Linked DNA regions of Homo sapiens. The protein of the gene in region 2 interacts with the protein of the main gene of each other region in a biochemical or structural test. Each region holds a gene or a part of one and is shown on either strand. Other genes may lie near its edges.

Region 1 (4,180 bases), on a different chromosome or scaffold from region 2:
GTCGGTGGTGGCGCAGAGAAGCCAGACTTCTTCAAATACACCTTCTTTTCTAGATTTTAATTTGAGACTTTTAACTGTTTTATTACATAATTATAAAACAAAATTTAAGTGGCCGGGGGCGGTGGCTCACACCTGTAATCCCAGCACTTTGGGAAGCCGAGGTGGGCGGACGACTTGAGGTCAGCAGTTGGAGACCAGCCTGGCCAACATGGTGAAACCCTGTCTCTACTAAAAATAAAAAAAATTAGCTGGGCGTGGTGGCGGGCACCTGTAGTCCCAGCTCCTCGGGAGGCTGAGGCAGGAGAATCGCTCGAACCGAGGAGGCGGAAGTTGCAGTGAGCTGAGATCGCGCCACTGCACTCCAGCCTGGGCGACAGAGTAAGACTGTCTCGAAAAAATAAAATAAAGTAAAATAAAAGTTTAAATTTACAGAGCAATCTCTGAAAATCAGCAACAAAAGAAATGAAGCTAAATGCATATCCACTGAGTGGCATATCACTTAGAGAGGGACTATTCTAAGGGACTGGAAACACACCGGTTTACTACACAACCTAGTGGCATATACCCTCAGGGTAAGAAGACCTGTGAAGATGTTAAGGTTTTGGTCACCAATAGGTGAAGGCAGGGTAAGGTGTCCGAATGCCGTCATTTTCCATCCCCAGTGGTTTAATTGGTCTGGGCATTGAGTTTCAGTAGCTGCCAACACCCCAGAAAAGAGACACTCTCCTTGCCAAAACACACCAACAAATCCAACCTACCTCTGGCCAGATCCTCAGATCAACTACCAATTTACAGAAAAATCATAATGAACAACGTCAGAGGGGCCTGTTAGGCTACGTCATGAACGACTTGCTTGCTTCCACAAATAAATTGCAGGGAGATAGAAAGGGAACCTCTAGATTCAAAGGTAGTCAAAAGGCATATCAGTCAATCTGAATGTGTGGACCTTATTTGAGCCCTGATTCAAGCAGACTGAAAATACGTATGACATTTTTTGAACACTACTAGGATATTTGAAGCTATTCAGGAAATACTGTTACACTTGTCGGTGTGATGATGACTTGTGGTTATGTATTGAGAAGAGCCCTTTTCTCCTAGAGGAACATAGTAAAGATTTACAGAGGGAAGGGTGTGATGTCTTGGATTTGCTTCCAAGAATCAGGAAGAAAGGGTAGTGGAGGGGTCACAGATGAAATGAGATGAAACCGTGGAAGCTGAGTGATGGGTACCGGAGTTCATTACACTCCTCCCTCTACTTTAGTAGATGCTTGAAGTTTTGTGGAAAAAAAAAAAACCCACCCCGACATTTGAAAAGAGTGCACTGAAGCATCATGCATTGATGAAGTCTGGGGGCATCTAGGAAGAGACTGTTGACATTGCCACCAAGGAAATTCTGGGCACAGTCATGTTGAGGTCAACTGCAAGATCCTCATCCGGTTTGGTCTGGGCACTCTGTCACTAATTGGCACTCGGTCCTGGCCACCCCACAGCGGGATGTTTATTGGCAATCAAGGAGCTGGCGTGGCTTCTGGAAACCACAGCCTGCACGATGTTGTTGTTTTTTGTTTTGTTTTGTTTTGAGACAAGAGTCTCACTCTGTGGCCAGGCTGGAGCATAGTGGCGTGATCTCGGCTCACTGCAACCTCCACCTCCCGGGTTCAAGCGATTCTCCTGCCTCAGCCTCCTGAGTAGCTGGGACTACAGGCATGCGCCACCAAGCCCAGCTAATTTTTGCATTTTTAGTAGACATGAGGTTTCAGTATGTTGGCCAGGATGATCTCTATCTGTTGACCTCGTCATCTGCCCGCCTCTGCCTCCCAAAGTGCTGGGATTACAGGCGTGAGCCACTGTGCCCGGCCTGCACGATGTTCTTGAAGGCACCAAAGGAATTTGGTTTGGAGGAGGGACCTGGGGAGAGGGCCAGGAGTGGGGCGGTCACTGGTGTCCTCAGCTTCTTTGAGGGCCTGCGTGCAAAACTTTCGGATTGGGCAACTCCCAATGGCAGGACTCGGGCTGCCCTGATGAGAGCTTTCAGCTTTCTGTTGGGCCTGAGCCCTCTCTCCCAGGACGGCTCCGAATGGAAAGATGGCCCTGGGCGCCAATGCAGCCTCTTCCCCCAGAGGTGTGCAGCCAAAAGCCAAGTGGCCCCATCATGGAGTTTGACAAAATGACTGCTACAGGCTTTGCCGACCCTGAAGTTCTAGAAGTTTCTTGCCCTCTGCTGCTGTCTTCCCCACCCTCCCGCCTCCCTTGGGTGTGTCAGTATGTTGCCTCCTTTCGGCTTCAAATGTAAAGACAGACCCAGCTCTTCCCCAGGAAGCTGAGGGACTCCGTGGAATGAGAGGTCATTCGCTAGCAGTGAACACACTCATCTACGGGCCACAAAGAAAGAGCACATAAACTCTTCCCCGGCCTCGGATTCTCAAAGGGGCTGGGAAGCCTGTGTGGCTTGAGAATGCATATTCGATATTATGGTGTCCTTCTAGATTTGGAGAGGACCCCCCAATTCATGTCATCAGAAAAGCTATGGGAGAAAGCCTTCTCTGCTGGTGGGGACGTGCAGAAGAGAGATTCCCTTGGGCGGGGCAGGTGGGTGGCCGGTGGCCCCCAGTGCAGCCACCCAGCCTCCACGGGCCTGCTGGCTCACCTCTGGTGGAGTTGCTGTTGGTGTAGGTGAAGATGCTGGACTGGGTGCTGTCCTCATAGCTGTCCTGCGGATGGCGGCCTGCGAGCCTTTGGAGGCTCCACTGCTGGGCCATGGCTATGGAAAGCCCTGTCCCCGACGGCAGCCGGCCCTGGCGCATCACCTGAGGGTCACGGCGCTTTATACTGGCCTGTGGGATCAGCCCGGGCCTCTTCACCTTAAAAGCTCCCAAACCCTACACTACCTGATCTCTTAATTGGGCCTGGGACTTAGACCTCCTCCTCCCACCTCTTGCTCCCCTGCTCCTGAGGCGAGCCCGCAAGGGCGGCTCAGAGGGATTTGCTGGGAACCAAACTCAGACGCCCCACCCATCCCCGCCAGGAAGGTGGCGGTGACTGTGGGAGCCGCTGTGGCCCTCTCTGTGTTTATGTGTTCTCTGTTCCCTTCTACTGTCCTGCGTCCGCCTTTGGGGCAGGTGGACCCACGGGTCAGGATTTGCAGACTGGGGGGTGGGTGGTGAAACTGCTCAGAGCCCGAATCCTCCTTTCTCATGTGGTTCTCTTGAAAGCCCAGGGAGACTATTTAGGGCCGAGGCCTGGAACCGGATCCTCCTTGCGAGGCCAGCCATGTCCGTGGGCCCAAACGGGCGAGATTTGTGCCGGGGGGCTCCTCCTCCAGTGTAGGGGGGGCAGACTGACTGCGCACATCCTGCTGTTGGCTTCCCTCCTCCCCCTTGCCCCCCATGAGCTGTAGGTCCTTTGGCCGCCAGGGTGCACATGCAGTGCCCACATCAGCCCACGGCAGCGCCTGCTCACGTCTCCCTTGCCCTGAGTTCACAGCCTTGCCTTGGGCTTCACCAACCACAGGCCCCCCGTCGACAGAGTGTCCAGACAGGCCATCTCTGCTGTCCCTGTGTCCCCACGCTTCGCAGGGGCACGGATGACCTGTTAGTGCCCAACTCCGTAGCCTCGCCTCAGTTTCCAACCAACGGGCCCTGTCCCCTCCACGGCCCACCCGCCCCAGCGCCTCCCCAGGAGCACATCCCCTTTCACGGCTTCCATCAGCTCCCAGCTCCTCAGTCCCCAAATCCAGCTCCTTCCAGGTACCTCCTTTTGGGTTTATTCCTTAAGCTTAGGAAAGCCAAGGCGTGAGCTTGTGGCCTCTTGTCCCTGTTCTCAGAGCCACGATTCTCCAGCATTCCTGGCTCACACTTACACTCCTGGCAGCATGGCTTCTGCTGCAGGCACAAGGGGGCCCTGGCTGCCAAGCTGAAGGCCAGGGCTGCATGGAGCCCCAGCCTGGCTACCCATAGCAAGAATGGCTTTTAACATCTGTCGCTGCCTGCCACGTGCTAGGTGCCAAGCTAGGGGCCCCATGTGGAAGAGAAGACGAGTCCTGGCCACAGACTTGCCAGGGCCCATTCACAGCCTAGAAAGGTGAGCTTTTTCCCCAACTCTGGCACTTCTACACCTGTGTACCCAAGAGACTTGAAAATGTGTGTCCACACAAAAACCCGTACATGAATACAAACAGAGC
Region 2 (3,500 bases):
TTCTCTAATGTCTCAAAGCTTGCCAAATTAATTATTCACTTACAGTAACATTACTGTAGGCCCAGTTATGACCTGTGAGACCCAGATATTGATATATTACAAATACTTTTACAAGTGGGTGATTCTAATGTGTTCCCAGGGTAGAGAACCACTATTTTGAAATAATTTTGAATTCTTCTGCCACATGTCCCTTGGGGTTATTTTTTAAATTTTTGCTTTTGGCAAAAAAGTTGCTGAACAATTTTGTTTTTGTTTTTGTTTTTGAGACAGGATGTCACTCTGTTGCCCAGGCTGGAGTGCAGTGGCATGAACACAGCTCACTGCTGCCTTGACCTCCTGGGCTCTAAAGCAATCCTTCCACCTCAGCTTCCCAAGTAGCTGGGACCACAGGTGTGTACCACCATGCCTAGCTAATTTTTACATTTTTTGTAGAGACAGGGGTCTCACTATGTTACCCAGGCTGGTCTCAAACTCCTGGGCTCAAGCAGTCCTGCCACCTTGGCCTTGCACAGTGCTGGGATTGTAGGCATGAGCCACTGCACCTGGCCCTGAACAGTTATTTTTGAGCCCCCAAGTTGGTATCTCATCCAGATCAGTGGTTACTGTTCTCAGGAAGTTCCCATGCAACCTGTGGCTTTTGTTCTCAGATCATTCCTTTGCAATATGTCCTTAAGAATTTTTGTCTTTCTGTCTCTTTTTTTTGAGACGATCATTCTGTTGCCCAGGCTGGAGTGCAGTGGCGCAGATCTCAGTTTACTGCAACCTCTGCTTGCTAGGTTCAAGTGATCTCCTGCCTCAGCCTCCTGAGTAGCTGGGATTACAGGCATGCACTGCAACACCCCGCTAATTCTTTTAGTATTTTTAGTAGAGATGGGGTTTCGCCATGTTGGCCAGGCTTGTCTCGAACTCCTGACCTCAAGTGACCAGCCCGCCTCGGCCTCCTAAAGTGCTGGGATTACAGGCATGAGCCACCACACCCGGCCCTCTCTCCTCTTTAAAAACATTTTTTTTTCCCCTCCATTAAATCTGTCTGAAAGAGAGTTGATTTTTTATTGTGTTCTTTAAGGTACTGAGTTATGTATCCTGTGACATTTTTTCTTTTTCATGAGAGTTTTTAGCAGAAGGTGTAGGGTTCTTTAAGACAGTGATTCAGCAAGTGATAAAAAGTTGAGAGGTGTTTCTTTCCTCTAAGATAGTGGGGACTTGGTCATCTAAATTGAGGTATGGGATGGAGAAGTTTCTAGTTTTCACCTTCTTGCAGGTATGCGAGAGTGAGACCATCATTGTTCCCCCATACAGAAGTAGGATGCTTAACAATCTAATACCCTTTGGGCAGTTGAAGTCAGTGAGATTCTCCCAAGGCTGCTTTCCACCAGCCCAACCAAGAAATCTACATTCCAGCATTAGCTTCTTCAGGAAGAAGTAGAGATGCAGAAATTATAAACATGTTTAGGCCATTGTGGCTAATTTGGAAGTAGCAGGTTTGGCCTGCTGAGCTAAGTTTACAAAATTTCAAGGTGGGTACTTGAAATTTTAGAAGTAGGTAAAAAGAACCTACTTCTTTACTTGGAAGTCCTTGTGTAGTTTAGTATTAGGAAGTTTATCCAAGGCAGTGACAGTCTTATCTTTGTATCGCTAAGCATAACAATAATAAATGTACTCTGTACTCAACAGTATGAGTTGAATTTACTAGCTTTTTTTTTTTTCCTTTTTTTCCTTTTTTTTTTTGGTGACAGAGTCTTGCTCTGTCACCCAGGCTGGAGTACAATGGCACGATCTCTGCTCATTGCAACCTCCGCCTCCCAAGTTCAAGCGATTCTCCTGCCTTAGCTTCCTGAGTAGCTGGGATTACAGGCACCCGCCACCACGCCCGGCTAATTTTTTTTTTTTTTTTTTTTTTAAAGACAGAGTCTTGCTCTGTCGTCCAGGCTGGAGTGCAGTGGGGCGGTATCTGATCACTGCAACCTCTGCCTCTCAAGTTAAAGTGATTCTCCTGCCCCAGCCTCCTGAGTAGCTGGGATCAGTCACCCATGACCACACACTGCTAACTTTTTTTTTTTTTTTTAAAGACAGAATCTTGCTCTGTTGCCCAGGCTGGAGTGCAGTGGGGCAATCTCAGCTCACTGCAACTTCTGCCCCCCAGGTTGAAGCGATTCTTCTGCCTCAGCCTCTCAAGTAGCTGGGACCACAGGCGCATACCACCACTCCCGGCTTTTCTTTTCTTTCTTTCTTTCTTTTTTTTTTTGAGACGGAGTTTCACTCTTGTTGCCCAGGCTGGAGTGCAATGGTGCCATCTTGGCTCACCGCAACCTCCGCCTCCTGGGTTCAAGCGATTCTCCTGCCCCAGCCTCCCGAGTAGCTGGGATTACAGGCATATGCCACCATGCCTGGTTAATTTTGTATTTTTAGTAGAGACGGGGTTTCTCCATGTTGGTCAGGCTGGTCTTGAACTCCTGACCTCAGGAGATGCGCTCACCTCGGCCTCACAAAGTGCTGGGATTACAGGCGTGAGCCACTGCGCCCAGCCTAATTTTTGTATTATTAGTAGAGATGGGGTTTCACCATGTTGGCCAGGCTGGTCTCGAACCCCTGACCTCAGGTGACCTCGGCCTCCCAAAGTGCTGGGATTACAGGCGTGAGGAATTTACTAGAATAATATAATTTTAAACATTTAAAATTGATGTACATATTACATCATCAGGAATTAGAGGGATTGATAAAATAAGAGGGGGATGAAAAATGTAAAAAATAGATACTAGTGTTTAAATATCCTGATTTATTCATCAGATAAAAATTTCCAATGGGCAAATACTGGAGCAGCTGTGTTTGGAACACAGTCAGTCGGAACCCAGTCAGCCGGTAAAGTTGGTGAAGATGAAGATGGTAGTGATGAAGAAGTAGTTCATAATGAAGATATCCATTTTGAACCAATAGTGTCACTACCAGAGGTAAATGTTAAGGAATTAACCTTTTACTAATAACTTATTTTTCATTTTTAAGTTTTACCCTGGCTTGATCTGTCAGGGTATAATTGTTTGCATTTAAGAATGTTTACTGTTTGAAATGGAAGCTCTATTTATTAGATGTCTAGCCTTTAAGTATAAATTATCTTTTTACAGTTTTTACATAAATATTGGTTTGTAAATTCTATATGTAATTATTGGTAAGAAATAATTTTTTCTTATGTTTCTAGAATATCATGTTTGTTTTTATAACATGATTCTGGGGAAAAATTAACCTCATACTCACTAAAGTCCTTTCAATAAATGTTAACCTTGTATGTTTTTTGGACAAGAACATTGTTCTAGGAAAATTACTTTGTCATTTTTTAACCTCAGTCAGTAGCTAATATTTCTCTTCAGTAGCAAACACTTTTGAAACCTCTCTGTCCTATAAAGAAAAGCATTTAATTTCCAAAGGGAAAATGAATATTATATAAAAGAAAATGTTTAATGATAAATCAGGTCTTTACTCCCTCAGCCAAATCAGATATATTCCTA

The links.
Region 1: the proteins of RANBP2 (region 2) and OPN1LW form a complex in vitro, tested with the Homo sapiens proteins (one study listed by BioGRID).

What each region holds. Positions count from the first base shown.
Region 1 is NC_000023.11:154,142,863-154,147,042, reverse strand, and holds the start of OPN1LW (long-wave-sensitive opsin 1), read right to left. Parts: upstream 2,801-4,180; 5' UTR 2,760-2,800; coding exon 2,648-2,759; intron 1-2,647. UniProt on the Homo sapiens protein: Visual pigments are the light-absorbing molecules that mediate vision. They consist of an apoprotein, opsin, covalently linked to cis-retinal.
Region 2 is NC_000002.12:108,778,482-108,781,981, forward strand, and holds part of RANBP2 (E3 SUMO-protein ligase RanBP2), read left to right. Parts: intron 1-2,787; coding exon 2,788-2,948; intron 2,949-3,500. UniProt on the Homo sapiens protein: E3 SUMO-protein ligase which facilitates SUMO1 and SUMO2 conjugation by UBE2I. Involved in transport factor (Ran-GTP, karyopherin)-mediated protein import via the F-G repeat-containing domain which acts as a docking site for substrates.